Regions from separate parts of the Homo sapiens genome. Here all the other regions are linked to region 1. The links come from fine-mapping of genetic effects on gene expression. A gene starts in region 1. Each other region holds a variant in brackets. All regions are shown on one strand. Distances are from middle to middle.

Evidence for each region. PIP is the estimated chance that this variant, and not a neighbour inherited with it, causes the effect.
Region 2: its variant is fine-mapped to the expression of TPRG1L in whole blood (TOPMed, PIP 0.97).
Region 3: its variant is fine-mapped to the expression of TPRG1L in whole blood (TOPMed, PIP above 0.99).

What each region holds. Positions count from the first base shown.
Region 1 is chr1:3,620,062-3,628,242 of GRCh38, reverse strand. TPRG1L (tumor protein p63 regulated 1 like) reads right to left here and starts at 3,228. Exons shown (of 5, transcript NM_182752.4): 1 at 2,970-3,228; 2 at 2,728-2,819; 3 at 2,354-2,530; 4 at 590-743. The coding sequence starts at 3,170. It also overlaps a transcript of MEGF6 not described here. RefSeq lists enhancers at 2,192-2,854, 3,835-3,954 and a silencer at 3,155-3,384.
Region 2 is chr1:4,093,445-4,101,625 of GRCh38, reverse strand. No RefSeq gene overlaps it. Among named protein-coding and RNA genes, the nearest start is that of LINC02780, 120 kb to the right of the region's middle. The variant G/A (reference allele first, on the strand shown) is at 4,994.
Region 3 is chr1:3,673,886-3,682,066 of GRCh38, reverse strand. The region is part of intron 1 of TP73 (tumor protein p73); the gene reads right to left. Among named protein-coding and RNA genes, the nearest start is that of TP73-AS3, 9.0 kb to the right of the region's middle. RefSeq lists enhancers at 643-1,378, 8,139-8,181 and a silencer at 1,668-1,835. The variant G/C (reference allele first, on the strand shown) is at 4,424.

The DNA.
Region 1 (8,181 bases):
CTCTCGTCCCCACGGAGCTCTCTAGGTGTGTGGAAATCTTGCCACCATGCTCTCCTGTGGCCAATGGCAGCCAGCACCTGCAGAACCCTTCCTGTATACAGGGCTGAGTGGCTTTGCCGTCACCCAACCTACCAGGTCAGTAACCAGGCCGAGGCACACAGCTGGGGAAGTGCAGGACCCCCGCCAGGCTCTGGGCTCTGGGCTCTGCTCTAACCCCAGCCCCGAGGCCTCCTCTCCTGGTGCGCATCCGCACTGGTCATCTGGCACGGCTGGGTCTGCTGCCACTCTCTGAAGCCCAGCTGGGGCCCTTCCCCACCCAGATCACCATCAGGAGGCCACATTATGGAGCTATGCTAACCAGCAGCCACTGGCCACATGCGGCTACTTTAACATAAATTAACCAGAATTTCTGACAACTTAGGGAATCAACTCTAAAATGAGAGCTTCCTCTCTCATTTCTAGCCACGTCTCAAGTGCTCGGCAGCTCCGCGTGGCCGCCGGACAGTGCAGACCTGAAGTGTCTCCGTGACTGCGGGGGGTGTTTCCATCACTGCGGGGGGCGCGGCTATTTATGTGCCTGTCTTCTTACCTGACACAGAGATGCTGTCTTCTCATCTGCGCCAGCCATCGGGTGTTCTGTGAAAGTGGCATAGGGCACGTTGGTAGACCAGGGATTCCATCTGTTTATGAAGGAAGGACGACTTTGCTTGTCCCACTGAATTCGAATCCCAAAACCTTCTCGCCTGAAAAGTCAGAAGAAATAGCCAGACTTAGCATGGCAGGCCACAGTGCTCTCATGGACAATCTGACAGTCTCATCAGTTAGGAGAATATGACAGCAAAAAGCACACGTTTACAGAAAAGACCTATGACATATCACAATGGAAAACGGCTTGTAGTTTTTATTTTTGTTTTTATTTATTTTTATTTTTTGAGATGGAGTTTTGCTCTTGTTGCCCAGGCTTGAGTGTAGTGGCCTGATGTTGGCTCGCTGCATCCTCCACCTCCTGGGTTCAAGCGATTCTCCCAACTCAGCCTCCGGAGTAGCTGGGATTACAGGCATGCACCACCACACCCAGCTAATTTTGTATTTTTAGTAGAGACAGGGTTTATCCATTTTGGTCAGGCTGGTCTCAAACTCCTGACCTCAGGTGATCCGCCCGCCTCAGCCTCCCAAGGTGCTGGGATTACAGGCGTGAGCCACCGTGCCTGGCCGGCCTGTGGTTTTTAGTAGTAACTTCAATCTCCACTAACAATTGCTTTAAATACTGTGGGTATAAATATGACAAATTAGGTATATTTTGGTTATTAAATGTATTATTTTGGTAATCTTTACATGATTAAAAATTAATAAACAGGAATACTGGCTGGGCACGGTGGCTGACATCTATAATCCCAGCGCTTTGGGAGGCCAAAATGGGCGGATCTCTTGAGCCCAGGAGTTTGAGAACAGCCTGGGCAACCTAGCAAAACCCCATCTCTACAAAAAATACAAAAATTAGCTGGGTGTGGTGGCGGGCACCTGTAGTCCTAGCTACTTGGGAGGCTGAGGTGAGAGGATCACTTAAGCCTAGGAGGTGGAGGATGCAGTGAACCAAGACTGCACCACTGGTGCCTGGGTGACAGAGTGGGACTCCGTCTCAAAAAAAAAAAAAAAAGGGAATAATTATAGATAGGCTAGCCAAATGAGTGAAAAGGAAGTGTAATCTTCCTTTTCCTTATGTCATATTAAATGTTTTAACCAAAAGGTAAAATTTTTATTTTAGCTTCCTGAATCCCCCATCCAAATCTCTCCATCAAAAACCCAAGTTCTACAGCTTAACTGACTGTAGTAATGTTTAGGTTCCTCACGTCAGAAAATTATCCTACAGCAAAAAGATCAACTCCTGAAAGCTGGTCATTAAATATTTCCAAATTTGTCTTTTAGTGGTATCTATAAATTACAACGGGACCCTCCATTTCTCTTTAAAAAATTAGCCAGAGCAAGACTTGATGTGTCATATGCAATCTGTCCCTGGCTGGAGAAAAATGCAGAGTTTGGACTTTTCCTGAAGAACATCCAAGTTCCTTTTTAACACGCTGGGCTCTACTTCAATGCATCCTGAACTCATGTAAGTCTTTTTACTACCAGCCTAATAGCTGCCTTCTGTGCCAGAATTCCTTTTAATGCACTCAATTGCCCAGAAGTCGCTTCTTTTTAAGGAACTTCCCATTGATATTTGGAGCTGGAGCCTTTGTGCTTATAATTAATGACAGAGAAGACACACCGCTTGGGGGGCTGATTTAAAAGGGCTGAATTGTAAGGTCCACTCTGGTGCTTAGGTCCAGTGATACTGGACTCTGAACAGGCTTACTTGTTGAGCGATTTAGGGGGAAACTGGAATTCTCCGTAGGAAATGGTGTCTACTGCGTTGAGCGCTATCCGCACCACCTGCTGGCACTGGAGACTGATGAAGTCGTATTTACAGATAAGCAGGGACTGCTCCGTGACCAGCACCAGCCGCTCCTTCTCATTGTTCCAGTGATCCACCCTGTAGGCAGAGGAGGGGCCTCAGTCCACACTGGACGCGGCTGTCTCGACTTAGCCAAGGCCAGCCCGCCTGGAAGGGCAGCAGGGGCGGCACGGGGCGCCTGAGCGTGGCACGAGCACCCCGGGAAGTCCTCGCAAGGTGCTGCGCGGCGGCTCGGGGCGAGTCCCCCCACCAAGGAGAGCGCAGCCCCGGCTTACTCGGTAAGCAGCCACACTCCCTGGATCTCGCCGTCCTCCACGGGCCGCACCACCACGCGGATCTCCTCCACTGCCTGCTCGATGCTGCCGGGCTGGGCGGGTTGCGGGGTGGGGGACGGGGGCAAAGATCACAGGTCACAGCTCGCTCCCTGCGGGACCGCCCGGCGCCCGCCTCCGACCCCACCCGCCCCCATCCCGCCCCGCGCCCTCGGCCCCCGCCCCGGCCCTGGCCCCTGCCTCACCCGGAACACGAAGTACTCCTTGACGCGGGCGCGGCGCGTGGGGTCGTGGATGCTGAGAGGCCAGAGTGTCTGGCGCAGCGGCGTCCCCGCCCCCGGCCGCCCCCCGCCCGGGCCGCCGCCTGCCCCCACCTCCTCGCCGGCCGCCAGCACCGCCGTGGGGCTCGTACCGGCCGAGTCCACCGAGTCCCGCAGTTGCAGCATTGCCGCACCCCTTACCGACCCCGACCCTGACGCCGACGCGACCGCCGTCGCCGCAGCCACCGCCACCACCCGGCCGCGCCCCCGGCCCCGCCCCGCGGACCGCCGCGATTGGCTCCGCCTTGCCGGCCCCGCCTCTGGCTCCGCCCCTTCCCGCGTCCGCCGACCCTCGGGATTGGCTCTCCTCCTGCCGTTTTCCGCGATTGGCTCTGCCCCGCCGCCGTTCACAATCGCTCCCGCCCCTCGCCGGGCCGGAAGCGACCGTCACGCGCAGGCTCACTTCCTGTTTACACAACGAGAAGGGGCGGGGCCGAAGCCGGTTGCCAGGGTGTCGCGGAGCGGCTGGGAAGGAGGGGCTGGGAATCTTGGAGCCCCTTGGCCCGCGGGGAAAGCGGGTGACCCGCCCTGCAAGTGGGATGCCCCCTTCGGCCTTCTGGAGCGCAGGTGGGGGCGCGCGCCCATCGGGGGCTCGCACTGCACGGAGGGTCGCGGTGCCGGGGAGCTGAGGTTGGAGGATGCAGGGCGGCGGCCCTGGTGCACCGTGGGGGAGTTCGCACGCCGGGCAGCGATCTTCTGCCGGGACCTGGCGTTCTTCACACACGGCTTATTCGTGACGGATCCACAGAGCAATGCACTCTGAAGCCGGAGGGTAGAAAGTGCTGGAATGCGCGCCCGGGCCCAGGCTGTCGCGAGCCTTCAGCAAGCCAGTGCACACAGAGAGGGCTGCCCAGAGATCCCGGTCAGCGCTCGCAGTTCGAGGTGGAACATGTGTGTGCCCTGCGCTAGCCCCAGCTCCCGGAGGTGCCCCCAGCGCGTGTGGAGGGGGGCGGTGAACGGACCCGCAATCTGGTGGAGGCTGCGGGAAGGAGGCGCAGAGTCCAGGGGTCAGGGTTACCTTCGGGCAGGAGGACAGATCCCTCTGCTCGGAGGTGAGGAAGACACACGAGGCGAGGTGCACACAGGCGAGGAGAGTGAGATGGGGGGAGAATGAGGAGTTCAGGATACATCTGTTTACTTCAGTCAGGGAGTGGGGATGGAGCGGAGTATTTGTAAAGATGGACGGTTTAGAATCGCCGGGATGAGAACCGGGCAGGGAGCTGATCAGGGAAGGGCATGGGGATCTCTGAGCAGCTGGGAGACCCCAGGGAAGTTTGCAGTGGCGCCTCCCACGCGGCAGCTGGGGGAGTGGAAGAAACCAATGCTGGCTGGTCTAGATGGAGGAGTTTGCTGGGTAGCGGTGGTCAAAGACCAGAGAGAAAAGGGAGGCCAAAATCCTAGAGGGAGTGTTGCCCAAGAATGGTGGAGTGCAGGGATTCTGCCCCACTTGCCAGCAGACAGGCCAGGCTGCCAAAGTTGCATGGGCGCTGGCAGAAAGACCCAATACCCCTGGAGTCAGAGAGGAAAGACTACAACAGGAAACGGGCGACGCTGGTGTGCCCAGACGCATGTTGCACCACAGCGGGTGCACTACAAAACAGGACCCTGGATCCTGTGGACCAATGTGGTCTTTGTCCCACAGGGAGGCTGTCTCCCCGGCAAGGGTGCCCACTGCAAGCACAGGCGTGAGAAATGGCCCAGAAAAGAGTGGTCAGGGCAATGTGTTCTTGGCACGCCCAGCAAGACCTGCCAGAGGGACCTACAGACGAGTGTCTCCCAGCTATCTTACCAGCGGGGACCTTGAGGTCCAAGTATCCAGTCCGGTTAGAAATGGCCGCGGATCCAACAGGTGCTGGTGAGTGGGAGAATACCCCTGAGGGAGGAAGAACAGAGGCCGGGAGGGAGCTGAGTGGATGTAGATGAGAAATACCTGGACAGCTGCAAGCTGTAGTCAGTGATGGGCAACTGGAACCAGAGATTCCAGAGAGAGGGAGGGAGAAAGAGGGAGGAGAAGGGAGAATGAGAAAGAGAGGGAGAGAGAATGGGGGGGAGAAAGAGGGAGAATGGGGGAGAGAGGTAGGAGCAAGTTCTGGACCACGCCAAGGATGGAGCTGTGGTCCTGGAACCAGATGTCCAGGGAATGGGATGAAGTGACACTGGCTGGGGCCGAGGCTGCAGACTGCTGGTGGGAGCTGGCAGGACAATGAGGATTCTGAACCAGGTGCCTGAGCCTTCTGTGGATATGGGGAGTGACTTGGATGTCTATAAATTCCAGAAATGATAGGAGGGATAGATGATGGAGGGACTGTATTTTAGACAATAAACAAATTTCACTCAGTATGGATGAGTTTCCTGGGGCTTCTGTCACAATGCATCACAAACTGGTTTTAAAAACAACAACTGTTTTAAAAACAACAGAAACGTGTTTCCTCATAGCCCTGGAGGCCAGAAGTGCAAAATCAAGGAGTGTGCAGGGCCATGCTCCCTCTGCAGCCCTGAGGGTTGACGCATGTCTTGCTCTGCCAGGCCTGCTTGGTGTCCTGGGCTTGCTCATGCACTGCTCCCATCCCTGCCTCCATCTTCACACGACCTTCTCCAGGTGGGTCTCTTCTGCAACATCCCTGTTGGATTAGGGACCACCCTAGTGACCTCATCTTTAGTCGATCATCATCATGTTTGATCAAATAAGGTCACTGTGTTTGTTTGTTTTCCCACTGCTATTAATATGAAGAACTTACCTGAAGCTGGGTAATTTATAAAGAAAAGAGGTTTCATTGACTCACAGTTACACATGACTGGGGAGACCTTAGGAAACTTACAATCATGGCGGAAGGCAAAGGGGAAGCAAGGCACGTCTTACATGGCGGCGGGGGTAGTGGGATGTGCCACACTTAAACCATCAGATCTTGTGAGAACTATGACAAGAACAGCACGGGGGAAATCGCCCCCATGCTCCAATCACCTCCCACCAGGTCCCTCCCTCGACATGTGGGGATTACAATTCGAGATGAGATTTGGGTGGGGACACAGCTAAACCATATCATTCTACCCCGGCCCCTCCTAAATCTCATGTCCTTTTTACATTTCAAAACCAATCATGCCCTCCCAACAGTCCCCCAAAGTCTTATTTCAGCATTAACTCAAAAGTCCACAGTCCAAAGTCTCATCTGAGACAAAGTCCCTTCTGCCTATGAACCTGTAAAATCAAAAACAAGTTAGTTACTTCCAAGGTATAATGGAGGTACTGGCACTCGGTAAATGGTCCCATTCCAAAAGGGAGAATTTGGCCAAAACAAAGGGGCTAAAAGCCCCATGCAAGTCCAAAATCTAGTGGGTTAGTCATTATATCTTACAGCTCCAAAATAATCTCCTTTGACTGCATGTCTCACATCCAGGGCCACACTGATGCAAGGGGTGGGCTTCCAAGGCCTTGGGAAGCTCTGCCCCTGAGTGCCTACGGCTTTTCCAGGTGCAGGGTGCAAGCTGCTGGTAGATCTACCATTCTGGGGTCTGGAGGACAGTGTCCCCCTTCTCGTAGCTCCACTAGTCAGTGCCTGTGGGCAGCAAGCCACCCCGGTGCTGAGGCAAGAGACCGAGGGCACGAGCTGTTCCGGTGTAATAAGATATATAAAATAACAAGAGTTATACTAGATCTAGATCATAGATATGATTATATGTAAATATCATTAATCATTAATTTGTAGTAATTGCTCTTTATTCCAATATTATAATAATCCTCGCTCTACAATCATAACCTAGAAAAAACCAGGCCGTACAGAGATGGGAGCTGAGGGGACATGGTGAGAAGTGACCAGAAGACAAGTGCGAGCCTTCTGTTATGCCCGGACAGGGCCACCAGAGGGCTCCTTGGTCTAGCGGTAACACCAGCGTCTGGGAAGACGCCTGTTACCAAGCGGACCGTGGTCTAGTGGCAGCGTCAGTGCCAAGGGAAAAGCACCCACTACTGAGCAGACCAGGAAAAGGAGTCTCCCTTTCCCCAGGGGAGTTTAGAGAAGACTCTACTCCTCCACCTCTTGTGGAGGGCCTGACATTAGTCAGGCTTGCCCACAGTTATCTGGAGGCCTGTCTCCCTGTGATGCTGTGCTTCAGTGGTCATGCTCCTGGTCCGCTTTCATGTTCCATCCTGTACACCTGGCTCTGCCTTTTAGATAGCAGGTGCAAAATTAGTGGAAGTACCAGAAGTCTCTGATATGCGGAAATAATGGCGTAAGCTGTCTCTCCTCTCTCTCTCCGCCTCAGCTGCCAAACGGGGAAGGGCCCCCTGTCCAGTGGACATGTGAACCACGTGACCTTACCTATCATTGGAGATGAGTCACACTCCTTACCCTGCCCCCTTGTCTTGTACCCAATAAATAACAGCGCAGCCAGGCATTCGGGGCTGCTACCGGTCTCCGCGCCTTGGTAATAGTGGTCCCCCAGGGCCCAGCTGTCTTTTCTTCTATCTCTTTCTCTTGTGTCTTTATTTCTACGATCTCTCATCTCTGCACATGGGGAGAAAGACCCACTGACCCTGTAGGGCTGGTCCCTACAAGTGCCCCAGTGGGGACTCCGTGTGTGGAGGCTCCCACCCCACATTTCCCCTCTGCATTGCCCTAGCAGAGGTTCTCCATGAGGGCTCTGCCCCTGCAGCAGACTTCAGCCTGGACTTCTAGGTGTTTCCATACATCCTCTGAAATCTAGGCAGAGTCTCCCGAAGTTCACCTCTTGTCTTCTGCACACCTACGGGCTCCGCCTGGGCTGTCCCTTGACCCCTTTTGGCCCTGACTGGAGCTGATTTTGCCCCCAAGGCCTCTGGGCCTGTGATGGGAGGGTCTGCCGTGAAGCTCTCTGAAATGTCTTGGAGACATTTCTACAGCTGATGGCTTGAATTTCTCCCCCAGACAATGGGTTTTCTACCACATAGTCAGGCTGCAAATTTTCCAAACTTTTATGTCCTGCTTTGCTTTTAAACATAAGTTCCAATTTCAGATCATCTCCTTGTGAACGCACATGACTGTACACTTTCAGAAAAAGCCAGCTCACATCTCAAATGCTTTGCCGCTTAGAAATTTCTTCTGCCAGATACCCTAAATCATCTCTCTCAAATTCAAAGTTCCACGGATCTCTAGGGCAGGGA
Region 2 (8,181 bases), 470 kb before region 1:
GGAAGATGAATCTCACACTTAGAAAAGACTGGCATCAGCCCCCACACTTCTGAGACGCCTTGAGCCTTTCAGGAAAAATGCATGAAGAATCAGCTCAGTAAGGTGCGTGGGGGCTTGGGGGAGGTACAGACCCACAGGATGTAGTTCCTGGTGGAGGATATTTTCTAGCAGAGATTTAGATGCTGTACCGTATAAGGGGCAGCCAAGATAGAGTGACAGGGGTCAGGTTACACCCTGGCTGAAACAACCTGACAGAGTATATGAAGCAACAGTTTTCAATACATTGGACATCAGGCAGTGAAGGACAGTGGTCCCTGAGAAATGAGAAACACAAGAGTGTAAGCCCAAGCTCACCACCTGGACAGAGTTTCCAGGCAGCAGCAGGGGAGGGGGATGCAGGCAGATCCCGCAGCCTCTGAGTTGAGGAGACTCTGCTAAAAAGTCCAGGAAGGCAGAGGCGGCTGCATCAGAGTGCCAGAGACAAGAGAGAAAGCAGAGACCTGCAGATTGGCTGAGGTCTCCCTAACATCTCGTATTGAGTACTTGCCAATGGATGCCAGTGAGAGAATGACTTGAGGCCAGGGAAAAATACCCTGAAAGAATTAGAGGGGAACAATTCTAGAGCTCCAACCAGATCAAGAATAATGCCTGCTCCCACAAGCCAGCGTGGGAAACCTCATAATTGATGAGCCATAGGGGAGAACACTCAGAGGTCCTATGCCTTGGTTATGCCTTGGTATTGGGGCAAAATAGTCCTCAATGAAACACTACCCTGAGCCCGCGTACGAAAGCTTGAAAGCAAGACCAAATAGATCAAACTGTTTCCAAGTAACACAACCATATCCTGGAAAAAAGCACAAGAGTATTTATAGGAACACAAAAATATACAGCATGCAATAAGGCAAAATTCAAGTGTGTGGCATGCAATCAAAACTTATCAGACATGCAAAGAAGCAGGAAAATATTACCCAGAGATAGCACAGATTATAGAATTAGTAGATGAAAACATTAAAAGTTGCTATAACATTATCTCGTGTGTTCAAGAAGCTAGAGGAAAGAGACTGAACACAGTCTCAGTATATACAGATACAGAAGGAAAAATACCAATTCAGACTTATAGAGATGAAAACTACAATATCAGTTCTGAAAAACTGCACTGGATGAGATCAATAGCATAATATATATAATACATATATTATATTTATATATTATATATTATATATATTATAAGTATATATAATATATAATTATAATTGTATATATATAATATATATAATTATAATATAATATATAGTTATAATATATTAAATATATTATATATTATATATTAATAAATATATAACAAATAATTAATAAATATATTAAATATATATTATATATTATATATTATATTATATATTATATATATTATATTATATATTATATATATTATATTATAATATATTATATATATTATATATTATATTATATATTATATATATTATATATTATATTATATATTATATATATTATATATTATATATTATATTATATATTATATATATTATATTATATATTATATATATTATATTATAATATATTATATATATTATATATTATATATAATATATATATTATATTATATATTATATATATTATATATATTATATATAATATATATAATATATATATTATATATAATATATATATTATATATAATATATTAATTATAATATATATATTATATAAAATATATATAATTATAATATATATTTTATATAATTATATATAATATATATAATTATAATATATATATTATATATATTATAATTATATATATATATAAATTTCAGGGCATAGAAATATAAGTCACCCATAATGTCATGGAAAGGGGGCTGAAAATAATATACAAAGTATCAATGGACCATGAGACAATTTCAATAGCCTAATATGGATGCAATTGTGGGTCTTACTTTTATAAGAGGGAGGGTGGATAGTAAACATGTAAAGGAATACTGGCCTAATATTATTCAAATTTGATGAAAACTGCCAAGAAGCTCAATGAACCCCAGGTACAAGTATATTAGTCCATTCTCACACTGCTATGAAGAAATACCCGAGACCGGGTAATTTATAAAGAAAAGAGGTTTAACTGACTCACAGTTCTGCATGGCTAGGGAGGCCTCAGGAAACTTACGATCATGATGGAAGTCACCTCTTCACAGGGTGGCAGGAGAAAGAATGAGTGCCAGCAGGGGAAATGCCAGATGCTTATAAAACTATCAGATTCCATGAGAACTCACTCACTGTCACGAGAACAGCATGGGGGAAACCACCTCCGTGATTCAATTACCTCCCACCAGGTCCCTCCCAGGACACATGGGAATTATGGGAATTACAATTCAAGCTAAGATTTGGGTGGGGACACAGTCAAACCATATCAACAAGCAACATGACAAAAAATGACACCAAGGGATATCATAACCAAACCGCAACCAGAGAAAACGACAAATTATGTATAGAAATCATAAAAAAATTATTTGTATAATTTTTATACAAGTCATGTACAAATCTTTTGTACAGATTATGTACATGTCATGTACAAATTAAAAATTTAAAAGCAAGAGTTCACCAGCAATATGAAACCTACAAGAAACTCATTTCAAGTATAAAGACACAAATAAGTTATAATTAAATGGATGCAAAAAAATATACTAACCATGAGAAAGCTGGGGCGGCTATACAAATATCCGACAAGTAGATTTTAGAGCAAAGAATACTAAAATAAGGATAAAGACAGTAATTTCATCACAATCAAGAGGTCAGTTCCTCAAAGTGACATAACAACCCTAAACATCCATATACCTAATTAACAAGCTTCAGAATCCCTGAAGCAAAAACTTAAGGAGCTGCAAGGAGAGAGATAAATGGCAATTATAGTCAACACCCCTTTCTCAATAATTGGTGGAACAAGTAGACAGAAAATCCATGAGGATATAGAGTAACACTATCACCTGGGTTGATCTACTTAGCATTTAAAAGGCACTCCACCCAACAGCACCACGCATGCTCTTTTCAAGTGCGCATGGAAAATTTGCCGACATAGACCATAGTCTCATTTATAAAACAAGTTTCAATGGATTTCAAAAGATACGAGCTGTGGTGCGATAGAGTTTGGATGTGGCCCCCTCTAAATCTCATGCTGAAATGTCATCCCTAATGTTGGAGATGGGGCCCGATGGGAGGTGATTGGATCATGGGGCAGATCCCTCATGAAGGGCTTGGTGCCATCCCTTTGGTGATGAATGAGTTCTCCCTTAGTGAGTTCACCTGAGATCTGGTTGTTTAAGTGTGTGGCACCTCCCTCCTCTCTCTTACTCCCACATTCCCCACATGCGATGTCAGCTCCCCTTTGCCTTCCACTATTATTGTAAGCAGCCCAAGGCCTCACTAGCAGCTGAGCAGATGCTGGCACCATGCTCCATGTACAGCCCACAAAGCTGTTAGCCAATCAAACCTCTTTTCTTTATGAATGATTCAGTCTCATGTACTTCTTTATAGCAATACAAGAATAGCCTAATACATGGTGTTATGATATGTATTGGCTATTGTCCATGGTTCTTGGCTCATAACTCCCATAGCTCTTTTTTTTATTATTATTATTTTATTTTTTTGAGACAGAGTCTCACTGTTTCCCAGGCTGGAGTGCAGTAGCACGATCTCGGCTCACTGCAACTTCCGCCTTCTGAGTTCAAGCCATTCTCCTGCCTCAGCCTCCCAAGTAGCTGGGATTACAGATGTGCACCACCATGCCTGCCTAATTTTTGTACTTTTAGTACAGACAGGGTTTCACCACGGTTGGCCGTACTGGTCTCGAACTCCTGACCTCAGGTGATCTGCCCACCTAGGCCTCCCAAAGTGCTGGCATTACGGCAGTGAGCCACGGCGCCTGGCCCCATAACTCTTGTCTTTTACCATAAAGCTGGGTGTGTCAGGGCCTCAGGGGTAGGCCTCAGGAAAGAAAAAGTCTGTGATCTTCTCCTGCCCTCGTTTCACCTGCCCCAAGGCACGACTCTAATATTCCCCCACCTTTCTGATTGTGGGTATTAAGACTCTCCCCAAAAAGGGTCCCACCTTATCCCTGGGGAAGAAGTGCTAACTACATGAAGCTTCCATAAAAACCCAAGAGGACTAGGGTGCAGGAGCTTCCGGAGAGTTGAATACTTGGAGGCCAACAGGAAGGTGAAGAACTCATTCATGTGTCCAGAGGGTGGTGTGCCCCAACTCCAGGGGCAGAAGCTCCCATGCTCAAGACCCCTCCAGACCTTGCCCTGTGTATCTCTTCATCTGGCTATTAATTTATATCCTTTAAAATATCCTTCTTAATAAACCAGTAAGCACAAGTGTTTCTCTGCATTCTGTGAGCAGCTCTAGCAAATCAATCAAATCCAAAGAAGGGTTTGTGAGAACCCCAGCTTGAAGCCAGGTGGTCAGAACTTCCAGAGGCCTAGACTTGCTACTGTGGGTGGGGAGGGGACTGTCCTGTGGGATGGATCCCTCACCCTGTGGGATCTGGTGCTATCTCCGGGTAGACAGTGTCAGAACTGAATTGGAGGACACCCAGCTGGTGTCTGCTGCTTGATGCATGGAGAAAACCCACACACATTTGGTCACAGAAGTCTCTTCTGTGTTGACGGTTGTTGTGGTGTGAGAGTAGAGGAAAAGCACCATTTGAAAGAGCTTTTCCCTACACACAAGTTGTATAAAGTACATTCATTCTCCGACTACAGTGGAATTCAGCTAGAAATCAATAAGAGAAAAAATATCAAGAAAACTCACAAATACGTGGACATCAAATAATATACTTCAAAAGTGCCCATGGGTTGAAGAAAAAAATCAAAAGAAAAACTGGAAATTGGTAATAAAAATTAAACATAACTTATCTAAATTGTGGGATGCAACCAAAGCAGTAATTGGAGGAAAATTGATAGCACTGAAATACCTACTTTAGAGA[G/A]AAGAAAGACCTTTAATCTTTGACATCAGCTTCCCCCTTAAGAAATCAGCAAAAGAATAGCAAATTAGACCCTAAGTAACTAAAAGAAAATAATAATGACCAGAGTAGAAATCAATGAAATGAGAAGCAGAAAAACAATAGAAATTGATGAGATTAGAAGCTAGGGTCTTTGAGCAGGTAAACAAAATTTTGAAACTTCTAGTCAGACTGTTCACATAAAATATAGATAAGACATAAATTACCAATATTAGCAATAAAAGAGGTGACACCAAGACAGAATCTACAGAGGGTTACATAAATGTCAGCTACTACTACCCTGTGGGCTCTTCACTCAGGGACCTCAAGAGTCCAGTTATCAGGTACGGTGTCCAATGCACCCCCATTCCCACCCACCCTGTACCTGGCCCATCAACCTACGGGCAGCAAGGCTCAGCCTGCTGGAGGAATGTGTGAATGGCCGCAGCTGGTCCCAGGATTCCAGGGTGATGGAACTGCTGCCTCACATTCTTTGTGCCGACCTCTTGGCCACCCTGAGCTCCCTTTCTTCTCCCAGGGGATTCTGCCCCAGTACAACGTTGATTTGGTTCTGTTTGCCTGGTGACTTGATTTTGCATTTGCTCTCGGGCTTCTCAGGTTCTCCTAATAAATCTAAGTGGGCGAAAGTGTTGCCCATGGTTACCACCTGAGAGTGTCAGGAGTTGGTACCAAGATGGCACAGTCCCATTCCTCTGAGGAGGCAGGTGTGGAAAGGAGGGTTACTGGCTTGGGACCCGAGGGAGTGTCCACCTCTGGGAAATGTCCTTTCCTGGGGAAGCAGCAGCTTTGCCTCACACTGAGCTCATTGGTTCCTCTGGGAACAGTGACCCCTCTGGCCTGTGATTAGACCCACACTATTTCTCTAATGTTTTATTTACAGACATCTAAGTGTGAAATTCTGATAAATAAAAGATGATGTCATCCCAGCCAATCCCCAGTTGTCTCACCAATCAGCCTCTCAAGAAGCAAAGTATGACACACACATTTCACCCACTCTCAGCATCACCGAACTCGTGTTCCAAGTCAGGGCAGGGAGGGGGCTGGCAGGGAAAAAGCTTCCGGCATAGTAGCATCAATTTTTCAGCTACAGAGACAGAAAAAATATTCTTAAGGAAATGTTTATGTGCCTCATCGTATTCATTGTTCTATGTGGTCTAACCAATTACCAGAAATTTAGCAGCTGAAAGCATCACGCAGGCCGGGCGCGGTGGCTCACGCCTGTAATCCCAACACTTTGGGAGGCCGAGGCGGGTGGATCATGAGGTCAGGAGATCGAGACCATCCTGGCTAACAAGGTGAAACCCCGTCTCTACTAAAAATACAAAAAATTAGCCGGGCGCGGTGGCAGGCGCCTGTAGTCCCAGCTACTCGGGAGGCTGAGGCAGGAGAATGGCGTGAACCCGGGAAGCGGAGCTTGCAGTGAGCCGAGATTGCGCCACTGCAGTCCGCAGTCCGGCCTGGGCGACAGAGCGAGACTCCGTCTCAAAAAAAAAAAAAAAAGCATCACGCATTTACTGTCTCACAGTTTCCATAGGTCAGAATTCTGGGAGGTCCTCTGCCCAGGGACGCGGACTGCTCCTCTGACAGCCTCTGCACATGCTCAGCTCATAGAGGCAGGATGTCAGGGGGCCAGTGCCTCTCTACAAAGTATCACACACTGAGTGTCTTAAAACAACAAGAATTTCCTCTCTTACAGTTCTGGAGGCCAGAAGTCCACAATCCAAGTGTGTACAGGGCTGGTTCCTTCTGAGGCTGGGAGGGAGAATCTGCCCCAGCCTCATCCAGCTGCTGGTGGTTTGCTGAAATGTCCCATGTTCCTTGGTTTGAGGCAACGGCACCTGGTCTCCGCCCCATAGTCATGTGGCCTTCTCCCTGTGTGTTTCTAGATCTTTTCTTCTTCTAAGGACTCCAGTCATTGGATTAGGGCTCCCCCTAATCAGTATGACTGCACCTTAACCAGTTACATCTGCAAAGACCCAATCCCCAAATAAGCTCATACTCTATGGTTCCAGGCAGATGAGAATGTTGTGGGGTCATTATTTGACCCACTAAAGTCACTGTCAGCCTGACAACAAATGGGTGGATACAGTGAAGGCCAGAGGGGCTGGAGAAGGAGCAGGTGAAGCTGGGCTGGGCTTCGTGTCTGTGCCCCGAGTGTTCCCTGGCCTCACCTCCCACCCCCACGGCCTGCGGTGGCTGAGAGACACCAGTGTCCACCCTGGCCGGGGGCTCTTTCCCTAACAGCCCAGCAGGTGTGTGTTCAGGTGCCTTGGTCCACTGAGCCAGCTTCTCTGCAGTCCCTGCCCCCACCTCGGTGAAGAAATCCATGAGGATGCCCTGTCTTCATTTCTGGGGCAGCCTGCACCCCATCTTCCCTTGACTTCCAGTGCCCAGTGCCTGGAAGGTTCTCAAGAAATATTTGCTGAACAAATAATGAATAAGTAAATGGATAATCTCCCTCCCAGTGAGAGGCCAGACCCCACCTTGGCCCCACCTACCCATGCCCCACCTTTAGCCCACCCCAGATCCTAGGGTTCCCACCCACTTACCCCTCCCAAACCCTTCCAGTCCCCTGCAGCTCCCTGCCTCCCCACACCCAAGACCTGCAGTCTCTCCCTCGGGACCACTGATCAAACAGAGAAGGAAGGTGGGTGCTGGAAAGAAGAAGGAGGAGGGGAGAGACATTTCATGATTGACACAGGAGTGTGAAGTCCCTGGTTTGCACCCTGGCAAATACAGGGAAGGTACAAGAGAGGTTGGGTGGATGGAACTTCTGTCCCAATCAAATCCCATGCCTGGAGGACTCCTCAGTATCCTACTTATTTCTCACCACAATCCCAGGAAGCTGGGGCCCAATCACTCTCGTTTCACAGATGAGGAAACTGAGGTCAGCAGCTGTTGAGTAGCTGCATCAGGATCTGCATCCCACATCCAGCCCCTGAGACACTGCTGAAAGAGAGGGGCATGGAATGCGTGGGAAGGAGGCCCTTCTACAGGGAGTCAGGGAAGAGTCCAGCAGCAGAACTGGCTGTGGAAAATGAACAGGGTTGACTCGTGGGAAGGACCATCTTCCCATGTTTTCATCCTTTCTCTGCAGCCTGACTCTGAACTTTTGTGACTTCTCAGCCCAGATCTCCAAGTTAGAATGCTGG
Region 3 (8,181 bases), 54 kb before region 1:
AGGAGCTTCTCAGAGCCGTCGCCTTGGAAGAGGGGGTGACAGCAACACCCGCTCCTGGGGCTGCCTTGAGGGCCTTCAGGAGAGCAGACTCTTTGAGATGCTTGGGCCGGGACAAGCGTGTGAGGCCTGTGGTCTGTTATGATCCACTGTGTCTAGGTTTGGCCTGGGGGATGCTTGGGCCGGAACAAGTGTGTGAGGCCTGTGGTCTGTTACGATCCCCTGTGTCTGGGTTTGGCCTGGGGGATGCAGCCAGGTTTGGGGTCTCCCTGATGCCCGGGACCTGGAGGTGGCTCCGGTCCCGGTCACCCCATCTTGGGAACAGCGTGTGTGAGGGCTGCGCTGGAGGCTGCAGCCAAGCCCCCGGCTAGAGCCTAGCTGTGCCCACTGCTGCAGGACACAGACGCCCCCTCGCCTTCTGAGCTGGGGCTCCTTCCTGCACCCCAGGGCCACAGGGAAGCCTGGCAAGGCTGGGAACTTGAAGCTGCCCTGTCCTGCAGCCGGCCACTGCCTGGGTGGTCACGCCTTGAGAAGGAGACACCCAGGGATTGGAGAGCTCTGACCCCAGCGCCCGTCCGCTGGTCTTTGTCTCCACCATTGCTCCCCTGAGAACCCCTGGGCCCAGCTCCCAGTGGCCCTGGACACCCATGAGGAGGTGGCAGTGTCCAGGCAGAGCACAGCTGGGGGAGGGGACAGGGAAACCCGAGCCCACCCTGCCCACAGCCCCCAGCCCCGGCTGAGGTGACCTCTCCCCTGGGCCAGCCTCCCAGGTCCTCGGTGAGGTGCTATGGGACAGGCTTGGCCACCGCCCTGCAATGCTCAGGCAGGCAGGCCTGGACCTGCCCACGGCCAGCGGGGGTGCAGGCCATGGCCTGGAACCTGTCGTTTTTGTCCTTCCCCAGGCAGGCGGGAGCTGATAGAAGCCTGTGGCTGCCACGTGCCGGGCCCTGGAGAAGTGGCACAGGCCAGGCTGAGGGGCGGTCCGTGAGCCATGATGGCCTGGGACAAGCAGCTTAGAGGGTGCTGGCCCAAGCCACCTCTCCCAGGTGGGCGTGACCGCTCCATCCACTTTTCAGGAGCCCCAAGGCTCAGAGGGGTTAAGTGACTTGTGTGAGGTCACACGGCTGTAAGTGCTGGTGATGAATGCTCCAGGGGCTCTTAGAATTAGAAGTTAATTTGGTTGCCCTGCCCCACCCCACTTCACCATCACGTGGCCAGGTGGGTGTGCCCTTGCAGGCCTCCGATCCTGGGCTGGGCTAAAACCCCAGTGGAGCTGAGGGTGTGCATGGGGACCGCACCATTCCGTTAATTTAAAATGGGAGAGTGTGACAGGAAGCAGAACCGCAGGTCCAGCTGAGGCTGGCACAGGGCCCCGGGGGAGAGCAGAACCCGCCCTTGCCCATACCCCACGGTGGGTCCCTTTGGGCTGAGCAGTATGAGTAGGGTAGCCTCTTGGTGCAGGTATGTGGGCCAAGGCTGGGTGGGCACAAGTGAGGGGTCCCAGGCATGTTTCCTGAAGGGCAGGAGCACTGGAGGGGCTGGACTCGGAGGAAAGAAATTCCCTTAGATCCAAGAGGACAAGCCTGGGAAGGTTTTGCCGCCAGAGGCCTCTGGGTCGCATCCCCTTCATTTTGTAGATGGGCCACCTGAGTCCAGAGATGGAAATGGACTTGCCATCCACAGCAGGTGGATGACAAAATCCCAGCTCCCTTCACAGCAGCACCATTCCTGGTAGCTGAACGGTGCACATAGCCCAGACGCCCATCAGCAGAGGGCCGGGCACAGGAGATGTGGTGCCAGCAAGCAATGGAACATTACGCGGCCATGAAAAGGAACGAAGCTCTGACATGCTACAGCGTGGGTGAGACCTGAAAACCTCATGCTCAGGACACATGACCTCATCTGTCAGCCTGTGAGCTGTCCCCTCCCAAGGCTAAGGTGGGACAAAGACAGAGAGAGACAGAGACAGAGAGACAGAGAGAAACAAGGACAAAGAGAGACAGAGACATAGAGACAGGGATAGAGACAGGAAGAGAGAGACAGAGAGAGAGAGACAAGGACAAAGAAAGAGAAAGACAGGAAGAGAGACAGAGAGACAGGGACAAAGAGAGAGACAAAGAGAGACAGAAAGAGACAGGGAAAGAGATAGAGAGAGACAGGAAGAGAGACAGAGAGACGGAGAGAGACAAAGGCAGAGAGAGACAGGGACAAAGAGAGACAGAGAGATACAAGGACAAAGAGAGACAGAGACAGAGACAGAGAGACAGGGACAAAGAGAGACAAAACAGAGAGACAAGGACAAAGAGAGACGGAGAGAGACAAAGGCAGAGAGAGACAGGGACAAAGAGAGACGGAGAGAGACAAAGGCAGAGAGAGACAGGGACAAAGAGAGACAGAGAGATACAAGGACAAAGAGAGAGAGAGACAGAGACAGAGAGACAGGGACAAAGAGAGACAAAACAGAGAGACAAGGACAAAGAGAGACAGAGAGTGAGAGAGACAGAGACAGGGAGAGACAAGGACAAAGAGAGACAGAGAGATGGAGAGAGACAGAGACAGAGAGACAGGGAGAGAGACAGAGAGAGATGGAGAGAGACAGGGAGACAGAGACAGACAGAGACAGACAGAGAAACAGAGGGAAAGAGAGAGGGACAGGGAGACAGACAGCGTGGGAGCCGACGGCATCCCGCCGCACCCCTACTGGAGGTCCAGGGGTTCCGTGAACAGGTGTGCACGGGGCATCCCTCCGCGCAGGGCTCAGGGCTCACAGGAACTGGTCGGCAAAACATGATTTGTGATCTTATGCCTGGGACATGGGCGTTGGCTGTATTTTCAAGTCGGCATCCTGTGAACTCCCCCTGAAGCGACACCCTCTCTTCCCACTGAACCCTGAATGAGGAACAGCGACCCTTCTTGTCAGCGCGCCTCTGCCTGCCGGAGACCCAGCTTCCACATCCCCTGACCGGCACCCACTGTGCACTGCAGGACACCAGCTTGGCCTCTCATCCCTGCCTGGGCACAGGACAGAGGCCAGCGAGCGTGGTCGTGGGTCCCCGATCCCACCCGTCCGGCCCTCCAGGCTCACAGGACAGGCCACCACCAGGAGCATGTGGGGTGGGAAAGGGGCTTCCTCCACGCCAGGAGTTGGGTCCCCAAACATCCCCAGGCCTGTTTGCCTGAGATGTGGGCAGTGGGCCTCCAGGTGCAGGCGTGTGGACCAGCCGGAAGCCCTGGGCAGATGCATCTTCCAGGACACCCCTCCCCACAGTGGGGCTGGGGCAGGGCCCAGGAATCTGCCCCTTTAACAAGCCTCCAGGGGAGTCATGAAGAGCCTGGGACAGGCCCCCTGAGGAGGACACTGTCATGAGGGCCAGCCTTGCCACTGCTCGGGGCCCTGCTGCAGCCACCGGCCTCCCCCATGGGAATCGGGTTCCTCATTAGCCAAAACCAGGACCCGGAAACCTGCCCAGACTTAAAGCACACGGAGGAACTTGAACCGGAAGCCACGAGATGCCTGATTCCCAACTTCCTGGGAAAACGCCAACGCTGGTAGCATTGGTCCCAGGGCCCCACAGGAACACTGCTCACAGGCACAGGCGCCAGGCAGGGGCTCCCCCAACCGGCCTCACACACCTGAGCTGATGACTGGCTCCGCAGGCATCTGGGAGTACTGGGCATGAGGAACAGGAAGCTCTGTTGGGGGTGCAGGGACGCTGCGCTGGGGCAGGGGGAGTATGTGCCCTCTGCCCACAGCCGCCTTTCAGGCAAGGATCCCAGTGGCGAGAAAAATAAGTCAATTCTAATAAAATGGCCTTTCAATTAAATCCAATTTTCCCAACCATTTGCCTTTTAATTTGAAAATTCGTTCACAAGGGGATCACGGTTCTGGGACAAAACAGAAATTGCTTTTGAAACGTTGCCAATAGTTTTAAAAATCATGTGTATCAATGGGGAAAGGAGACCAATTTCATAAGACATCTTTAGGAAGTTTTATCAACATCATAAAATGCAAATACATTATTGGAAGTGTAGGTTTTTCTAAGAAGATTTAGTCTAGGAGGGATGGGCTGGGTGCAGTGGTTCATAACTGTAATCCCAACACTTTAGGAGGCCAAGGAGGGAGGATTACTTGAGCCCAAGGGCTTGAGACCAGCCTGGGCAACACAGGGAGACCTCAGCTCTCCAAAAACTTAAAAAAATATTAGCTGGGCATGAGGGCGTGATGGCATGTGCCTGCAGTCCAAACCACGCAGGGTGCTGAGGTGGGAGAATCACTTGAGCCCAGGGGCTCGAGGCTGCAGTGAGCCATGATTGCACCACTGCACTCCAGTCTGGGCAACAGAGCTAGACCACAACTCTAAAAAAAAAAAAAAAAAAAAGGGAAGGAAGGAAATGAAATAAATGAGTTCTCAGTTGTAACAGGGGC[G/C]TCCAGTGTGTATTACCACAGGTCTTGCAGTGGAAGGCTTTGTGTGGCCACAGCATTTGGGGGTGGTCATTGGGGAGCTGCTGGCCGGCACCCCCCCAGCCCTGGCACCATCAAGTCAGGGCACAGAGTTGCAAAGGACAGTTGTGCTGGGTGTTCCTGGTTACGCTGTAGCCAGGCTGTAGGCTGCTGGCACACCCAGGAAGCAGGGCACCTCGACCCTGCCCCAACTTCCATGAGGCCTCAGACAAGTCCCCTCCCTTTGCCAGGCTGGAAAGGTGACCAGCGTTCCAAGTCCTACAGTGCCCACAGCAGTGGGAGCAGGACAAAGACCAGCCACCGAGGGCCCTCCGGCAAACCCAGACCTCAGCCTGCTTGGATCCTCAACTCCAGGGGCCGCTGTACCAGCTGCACCACAGGGAGAGCCCCCACACACGTGTGACTCAGAACAGGAAAGGAACTCACACCAGCAATTAGGCCCCCACAGCTTCCCCGGGACCCACGGAGCACAGGTGGGCTGGGGAGGGGACTGTGTGGCCCAGAAAACCAGCCTGCCCAAGCTCCCTGGAGCTGAAAACAAGGCTCTCTGATGACTTCTCGGTTTGACTCAGGGCCTTCTGAGGTCTCAGCCTAGGGGTTCTCACCAGGGGCAGTTCCACCCCCAGAGGATATTCCCATGTGGGGACATTTTCCACGGGGTCAGAGGGTGCTGTGGAATCTAGTGTGCAAGACAGGGATGCTGCTTAGCACCCTACGTTGCTCAGGGCAGCTGCCCACAGCAGAACGCACGCCCAGCTGTCGGGGCCGTGGCGGAGAGGGGGTGCTGTGCCATGGCTCCGAGCTGAGGCTGGCCAGGCACTTTGCAGGGCCTCAGGCTCACACGCCAACCCTGCCCCAGTTCAGAGATGAGCAAGTGGAGGCCAGGAGGCCCAGTGGCTGGCCCAAAGCTACTGAGGGCTGAGGAGCTGGGACTCCAGCCAAGCCCAGGTCCTCTGATGGCCTGGCCGCACCCGAATGCTCCCCTCTGCCCTGTGGGGAGGAGTCCGCAGCCGGTGAGGGGCTCTCAGCCTCTCTCATCTCACCCTGCCCAACCCCTCTGGCCTCGTCTTCCATAGCTTCCCACGAAAGCCACAGCCCCCTGTCCCCCTGCCCTGTCCCAAGCATTCCCTCCCTGTCCCCAAGCATCCCCTCCCTGTCCCCTGTTCCTCTGTCCTCTCCCTGTCCCCCTGTCTCCCTGTCCCCCATAGGTTCCTTCCCTGTCCCCTTTCCCTTTGTCCCCTAGCCCCCCATCTTCTATCCCCTCCCTGTCTGCATCCCTCTGTCCCCTCCCCATCTCCTGTTTCTCTGTCCCCTCCCTGTCCCTTGTCCCCATAGATCCCTGCCCTATCCCCATGGGTCCCCTCCCTGTTCCCTGTCCCTTTGACCTCTCCTTCTCCCATCCTCTGTCCCCGTCCTAGCTCCTGTTTCTGTGTCCCCTCCCTGTCCCCGTCCTCCTGTCCCCTCCTTGTCCCCCATCCTCTGTCCCTCCCCGTCTCCTGTCCCTCTGTCCTCTCCCTATCTCTTGTCCCCATGGGTGCCCTCCTTGTCCCCTGTCCCCAGTCCCCACATGCCTGGCTATGTGCTCTCTGTGTTCAGCCTTTGTCTACCACCCCCTTCCTGCCCTCCCATCTCATCCCTATCTCTCCAGGCCAGGCCAGGACCCAGCCTCCTCTAGGAACCCCGTCTCCGGCTGACGCCCCATCCTCTCCCCTCACCACCTGACAGGAGGTGGGAGACCAGACATTTCCTTGGCCATGGGCCCACAGGTAAGGCCTCGTCAGTTCCCCAACCCCTTCCACCTCTGCCCAGGCCTGGGGCAGACAGGGCTCCACAACCACCTTTGATAAGCCAGGACACTCCACCCCGACTGAGCCCACTCTGGAAGAGGCACTCCCCATGGGGACACCCACTCCCACCTGCAGGGGCCCTGGCCGCAGGGCTGCTGTTACCTACCCACCCCTCGGTGGAGCTCTGAGACCGAGCCGTCCGCACTCAGCCTGGGCAGGAGACACAGGCCCCTCTGCCCCGTCTGGCCCAGCCATCCCGGACACTGGCTCTTAAGGGGGATCACAGGAGGGGTGCAGGGTGTCCTCCTCCATTCAGGGAGGAGGGAAAAGCCCCCAGGAACTCCACCCGCCCCGGGCCACCCCTAAAGCAAACATCTCAATGCACTTCTGATTCCGGTGGTTCCCAAACCACCAATGATTTTACCTGTTATTTCAGCAGATCAACGATTCCAATCTGAAGTGGCAAAGAAACCTGGGGCCATTGTGGGAGGAGACACCTGGGCCATTGTGGGAGGAGACACCTGGGCCATTGTGGGAGGAGACACCTGGGCCATTGTGGGAGGAGACACCTGGGCCATTGTGGGAGGAGACACCTGGGCCATTGTGGGAGGAGACACCTGGGCCATTGTGGGAGGAGACACCTGGGCCATTGTGGGAGGAGACACCTGGGCCATTGTGGGAGGAGACACCTGGGCCATTGTGGGAGGAGACACCTGGGCCATTGTGGGAGGAGACACCTGGGCCATTGTGGGAGGAGACACCTGGGCCATTGTGGGAGGAGACACCTGGGCCATTGTGGGAGGAGACACCTGGGCCATTGTGGGAGGAGACCGTCTCAATCCCCTTGTGCCCTTTTCCCAGGGACTCAGGCAGGTCCCAGGACCCAGAACCCAGAAGAGCCCCCGCCTGGGCAGAGGGGTCGGGCGGTCAGCGCACCAGAATGAAGCCAGGCAGGCTGGCCCTGTGTGAGACAGCGGCTCTCCCAGGCAGCAGCCCAGCGGAATTCCTGCAGGGCGTCATCAGAGCCCAGCCTCCTGGGGCCCTCTGTGCCAAGGGGCCTCACTCTCCCCTCCAGCCACCGCAAGAAGAGGGGCCGCTCTCGCTTGGCAGGCTGGGGCCAAGGACAGGGGTCCCCCGGAGTGAGGGCCAGGAGGGCCTCCCTCTCAGGGGCAAGGCCCTCTGCCAGCATTGCCTGCCCCTCCCGACAGAGGCTAAGGACCATGTGGCCTCCCTCTGTGGGTACGATGGGGCCAGGTCCTTCAGACAGGGTTGCCAGGACGGCTTCGTCAGCAGGTCAGGGGCAGGGACGAAGGCCTGTCCGCAGGGCCTGGTGAGGAGGATGCGGCTGAGAGCCCCCCTCACCGCCACAGATGGCACGCCTGCTGCCCCACTCCCCTAGTTTGGGGAAGCCCAGCATGGGGATGAAAGACAAACACAGCCTCCCACGGTGGGGTAGCGTGCACCGTGTGAAATATGCGGACAGCTGGAGGTGCCTGAGCAAGCTGCCCTCTCTCTCCTGGGCCGTGGCCCACGGGAAGCGGGAGGGGAGGGGAGGCAGATGCCCAGGACAGTCTGGGGGAATCCCTGAGCCTCACCCCAGAAGCTTTGAGGCCATGACCAAACCAAAATGCCCGACCCCCCGTGGGTGGGGGTGCCCCCAACCAGCTTCCTGGGTCAGTTCACACTCAGCCAAGTGAAATGTAGAAACACCAAAGCATGGCTAATTCCCGGGGATTCCAGCCACCCCACGACGGCCCAGTGAGGCCACACACCTGTTACCAACCAGGAGACATGCACAGAGAGGGAAGACCAGCCCTCCATGGGCACACAGCTGGTCAGGGTGGAGGTCGAACCCAGCAGCCTGGCTCTACCCTGGCCTGACCTGGAGCTGAGCAAGGGAGGCACGGGCCCGGCTGCAATCCCCTCCCCAGTCCG